Linked DNA regions of Homo sapiens: region 2 is linked to region 1. A link means that fine-mapping ties the variant in region 1 to the expression of a gene that starts in the linked region. Tissue or cell type: whole blood. Region 1 holds a variant in brackets; the other region holds the start of a gene. All regions are shown on one strand. Distances are between the middles of the regions.

Region 1 (2,681 bases):
GAGGCAAGTCACTGTCCCTCTCTGGGTCTCTGTTTTCTAATGTGGAAAGTGGACCAGGTGCTTTCTGGGTTGTTGTTGTTTAATTCAATCTAGGCAACACTCGCTCACAGAAGAATTCATGCACATACACGGCGCCACGCTAGGGGCTGTACGCACGCACGGCGCCACGCGCTAGGGGCTGAACGCACACGCACGGCGCCACGCTAGGGGCTGAACGCACGCACGGCGCCACGCGCTAGGTGCTGAACGCGCACGCACGGCGCCACGCTAGGGGCTGTACGCGCACGCACGGCGCCACGCGCTAGGTGCTGAACGCACACGCACGGCGCCACGCGCTAGGGGCTGAACGCGCACGCACGGCGCCACGCTAGGGGCTGTACGCACGCACGGCGCCACGCGCTAGGTGCTGAACGCACACGCACGGCGCCACGCGCTAGGTGCTGAACGCACACGCACGGCGCCACGCTAGGTGCTGAAGGGGCCGCAAAGATGAGTAAAATGCAGAGCGGGCCTTCGCAAGGCTCACAGCCCAATTCTCTTTTCCATTTTGTAGTCCTTGTGAGCTGAGCAAGGCATTATCATCCTTTTATTTAAAACAATAGGGGAAACACCGGGCGCGGTGGCTCACGCCTGTAATCCCAGCACTTTGGGAGGCTGAGGCGGGTGGATCACGAGGTCAGGAGATCGAGACCATCCTGGTTAACATGGTGAAACCCCGTCTCTACTAAAAATACAAAAAAAATTAGCCGGGCGTGGTGGCGGGCGCCTGTAGTCCCAGCTACTCAGGAGGGTGAGGCAGGAGAATGGCGTGAACCCGGGAGGCGGAGCTTGCAGTGAGCTGAGATTGCACCACTGCACTCCAGCCTGGGCAACAGAGTGAGACTCTGCCTCAAAAAAAAAAAAAAAAATAGGGAAAACAACAACAGCAGCAATAGGGGACTTGTCCCAGCTACTGAGGAGGCTCAGGCAGGAGGATTGTTTGAGCCTAGGAGGTCTAGGCTGCAGTGAGTCATGATGGCACCACTGCACTCCAGCCTGGGCGACAGAGTGGCAAGACCCTGTCTTAAAAAAAAAAAAAAAAAAAGACGAAGGAGAGAAATAATGTTTGACCATGGAAGGTCACACATTTTTGTTGTAGCTAGAGCATGA[T/TC]CCAAGTCGATTCTGAGTCTGGGCCTCTTTCCACTCCCAGCTGTCCTACTAGCCTAATTCATCTGGCATCACTGGGGCCAAAAGCTACAAAGTCCATTTTGAGCTCTAACTTTGCAGAGTCATTTCCATCCTCCTGCCTTCCCCATCCTGACAAGTGCACATGCACACACACATTGCCAGACACCCAGCAGACACAGAATCAATGCTTTTGCGTGAGTGAAACAGCCCCTCTGGCAGCCCTCTTCACCTGCCCAGTCCCCAGTGCCCAGCACCCAGTGCTGAGCTGGTGAAGATCCCGTGGCCAGAGGCACACTTACCATATACATCATGACTCAGATCCCATTTGCTGACTTGGAACTGAAGCCTCTTGCCCCACCAAGCAATTACTGGAGAACAGGAAGTCTCAACGGAAAATGAGGTCAGCCTGGTGGCTGAGAGGAAAAGGGTCAGCGAGCACAGCCTTCTGCCCCCGTGGGTCCCCACAGCGGCCAGCCCAGGGCCCTGCATGCAGCAGATGCCCACCACAGCTTCACTGGTGGGTTAGCTGCTCTGAGCGACTCTGTTCAGCCCAGCCACAGGAGGGGGTTACCAGGCAGGGACTTAATATGTGGCTCTAGAGTCTGAAGGAGACAACTTCAACTCAACCTTGTTTAGCAGAACTGGGCTATGACAAGGACAACCACAGCACTGGAAATCTATTCTTTTTTTTTTTTTTTTTTTTTGAGACGGAGTTTCGCTCTTGTTGCCCAGGCTGGAGTGCAATGGTGCAATCTCGGCTCACTGCAACCTCTGCCCTCCAGGTTCCAGTGATTCTCCTGCCTCAGCCTCCCAAGTAGCTGGGATTACAGGCACCCACCACCATACCTGGCTAATTTTTTGTCTTTTTAGTAGAGACGGGGTTTCACCATGTTGGCCAGGCTGGTCTCAAACTCCTGACCTCAGGTGATCCACTTGCCTCAACCTCCCAAAATGCTGGGATTACAGGCATAAGCCACGGCACCTAGGCTGGACATCTATTCTTTAAAGAACTCTGTGTTACCAAATTCAGTTCTGCAATCTGTCCCAAGAACTTCCTTTTCTGTGCCCTAAGTTACGATAGAGGAAGAGGCACATCAACCCCAGGCCTGCCTGCCTTTCTTTCTTTCCTTCTTTTCTTTCCTCCTTTTCTTTCTTTTTCTTTCCCTCTTTCTTTCTTTCTTTTTCTTTCTTTCTTTCTTTCTCTCTCTCTCTTTCTTTCTTTCTTTCTCTCTCTCTTTCTTTCTCTTCCTTCCTTCCTTTCTTTCTCTCTCTCTCTCTTTCTTTCTTTTCTTCTTTCTTTCTTCCTTCTTTCTTTTTGTCTTGCTCTGTCACCCAGGCTGGAGTGCAGTGGCACGATCTTGGCTCATTACAACCACCACCTCCTGGGTTTACGCAATTCTCCTGCTTCAGCCTCCTGCATAGCTCAGATTGCAAGGGCACACCACCACACCCAGCTAATTTTTGTATTTTTAGTAGAGACAGGGTTTCACCATGTTGGCCAGGCTGGTCTCGAA
Region 2 (2,681 bases), 53 kb after region 1:
AAGCAGTCCTACAGTTCCCTGGTGGTGTCTCAAGGGCGGAGGGGCCAAGGACAGAGACTCTGCCAGACTCACGCCACCCTGCCCAAAACACACACAGAGAACGAGAGAGAGAGAGAGAGAGAGAGACGCGTGCACATACTCTGCTTCAACAAAACAGCTCTTCTTTAATCCGAAGTGTATATTGGGTGGCTGCTTAAGATTTTGTTCGAGGACCAGGTTCAGGGATCAGAAATTCTTGATCTCAAAAGTCCTTTTCCACACTTTGTTTGATTCTCTGCAATGTTACACAGCCTCAGCAGTGGTCATAGAAGGGTTCGTTCTATTCTATCCATTGGCAAGGAGTCACAGAGTGCAGCTCCCAGCAATCTGGCTCTCCTCTCACCGTAACATCCCACCCTTTCCCCTCCAGCAGTGGACTGGAACCTCTGATGCCTTCCAAGCCCATCCCAGCTACAGAGGGACACACATCTCTGCCTCTTCCTAGGAGATTAGACTGATTTCCTTTCCTTGCACTGTCCAAATGAGACGCTTTCTGTCCTACACAGTAGAGCTTTGTGAAGACAGCCGAGAAACGGCTCAAGTTTTTTCCAACCTGTAAAATGCAAAGTTGGCCAGCTGCCTCTCTTCCTAGCCTCAAAACTCATATATTTCCTGTCTCCCCGGCAGCTCTAAGAGAAGTCTCTACTGTCCTGGGGTTTGGGGAAAGCACTGCTCAGAATGTGAAATCATTTTCTGGTAATACGGATCTAATTAGCTCTTTGACTGACAAGAGGAAGCAGAGGCCAAAAGGGAGTTAACCAATCTGTTTTTCAGATATTTCAAAACAAGTGAAGAACCAGATAGGGAAACAGAGAGAAAGAGAAAATAAAGAGACAAAGCCTAGGGAGCATTTGGAGAAGGGAGTGAGTAAGAAGAGAACGGGGAGGGAGAATATCAAGTGACTAAAGTATCAATCCTCTGTTCTTCCAGCTTCACCTCTACTCCCGGTCTCCCCTCTGCTCTCTTCCAGAGAGAACTTACTTGAAGGTCGATGTTTTCTCTTGCTGATTCCATCTCGCTGCCCTCAAGTCCCTTCACACGCACCGGGTGCCGGGAACAGACTGCGTGGGCTCCTCCAGGCTCCGCCGTCTGAGTCTCTGCTGCTTTCTTCGGGTGGGAGAGAGCACACAGCTGGCGGGACAGACCTGCCATTCATCCCTCTGATGTGGGATGCCCGTCTTGGCTGCAGCCTCTGGGGGAGGTGTGCACCTGCACACACGTGTGAGTGTATGTGTGTGCACATGTGTGTGCTCCAGGAGGTGGCACATGGCACACTGATAGGTGACCTTTTGAGTTGGTAGTGACAGCATCATTTTCACCAGTGGCTCCAGTGACCTTCCAGTCCCAGCGGAGCCATCTGAGGTCACCCAGCCTGCTTTGAGCTAGTAGCTTTATGACTGGCAAAGAAATCCTGCATGTTTATCAAGCAAATTGAAAAACAGCCTGAGGACAACGCTATCTGACTTCACCGCTGGGTCCAGTCCCCAGTCGCCACGGGTGGAGTGACCTCCAGCACAGTCTCAATACTGAGGCAGAGGGATTTCCGTTGTTCTTTGCTTTGTTCCCTATATCCCTAAAAGTTTTTAAAAAAATTGTAGTTTACCTAATAGGCTCCAAAGCATAGGCTTTGTTCTGCAAAGTGAGTGAACAATACGTTTTTACTGACGGATTGTTTGATTCCTTCAACTCCTCCCTTGATTAGCCATAGAGGGAGCAGGGAGTAGTTGTACCTTCGAAGCTTGTTTATGCAAACAGTGGTATTCTCCCTACTTTTAAAATAAAATTACCAGGAGGGAGTCTTTTTTTAGAAAGTTTTTTTTTTCCTCTCCTGTTTACCTTAGAGCCCAAAACTCTTCTGGCTTGTTCCTGAAGCAAGGTTTAGACACAAGCTTGTGCAGGTGTGGGTGTGGGTATGTCTGTAGACGTGCATGGCAGGGTGTTAACCTGTAATCCAATTCAGGGCTTGAAGAGGTGCGGGCAGGAGGAAGACAGGCAGAGTCAACACGTTTACCCTCACCACATTCAAATGTAAAAAAAAAAAAAGGCGATTTCTTCAGTTCTATGAAATGCCTTTATAAGTTCCCATCCCTCTGGACAGTGGTGCGAGGGAGGGTTGGATGATTGGATGGGGGCCATATTTTAGTCTAATCTATGAAGCATAGTTGGATTTAATCATTTAAATGGTAAACAGTCCACTTTAGACACAATGCTCAGTCTTTCGGATTTGCAGAAGATGGCACCTAGGTGCACAGGAGGGCGGGGTGGGGACGGTTCTTGCATCTATCCTGTGGCCTCTCCATCTCGGCTCCTTTCTGTTCTGGAGCTGCTGGGCCCACGGGCCCGCCCGAATTGCTGACTGCTGAGGAGACACAGGTCCTGCTCCTGGGTCTTCTGCTGGCCTTGGTGGCTGATGTCTGATATTAGGCCAGAGTCACTCATGGGTGATTCTCTTTCTGCCTTTGAGATCCAGTGTTCTCCCTTGCTGTCTGCGCTACCTTGGCTCGTGGCAATGTGGACCATCCTGAGACCTGGCTTTGACTTGTATGTGCCCCCATCCCACTGTATCCGCTCAGTGGCCCACATCTCTAAGATAAGCCCCTCGAAATTTTCCTGTGAGATGCTTGACCAGTGCTCCTGAGCCC

The links. PIP is the estimated chance that this variant, and not a neighbour inherited with it, causes the effect.
Region 2: it holds the start of NINJ2, and the variant in region 1 is fine-mapped to the expression of NINJ2 in whole blood (INTERVAL, PIP above 0.99). The same link has a PIP of 0.9 or more in left ventricle.

The regions. Positions count from the first base shown.
Region 1 is chr12:608,880-611,560 of GRCh38, forward strand. All of the region lies in intron 1 of NINJ2 (ninjurin 2), which reads right to left. Among named protein-coding and RNA genes, the nearest start is that of NINJ2-AS1, 21 kb to the right of the region's middle. RefSeq lists enhancers at 1-281, 282-798, 1,052-1,553. The variant T/TC (reference allele first, on the strand shown) is at 1,150.
Region 2 is chr12:662,308-664,988 of GRCh38, forward strand. It overlaps NINJ2 (ninjurin 2), which reads right to left and starts at 1,138. Exons shown (of 4, transcript NM_016533.6): 1 at 1,021-1,138. The coding sequence starts at 1,053.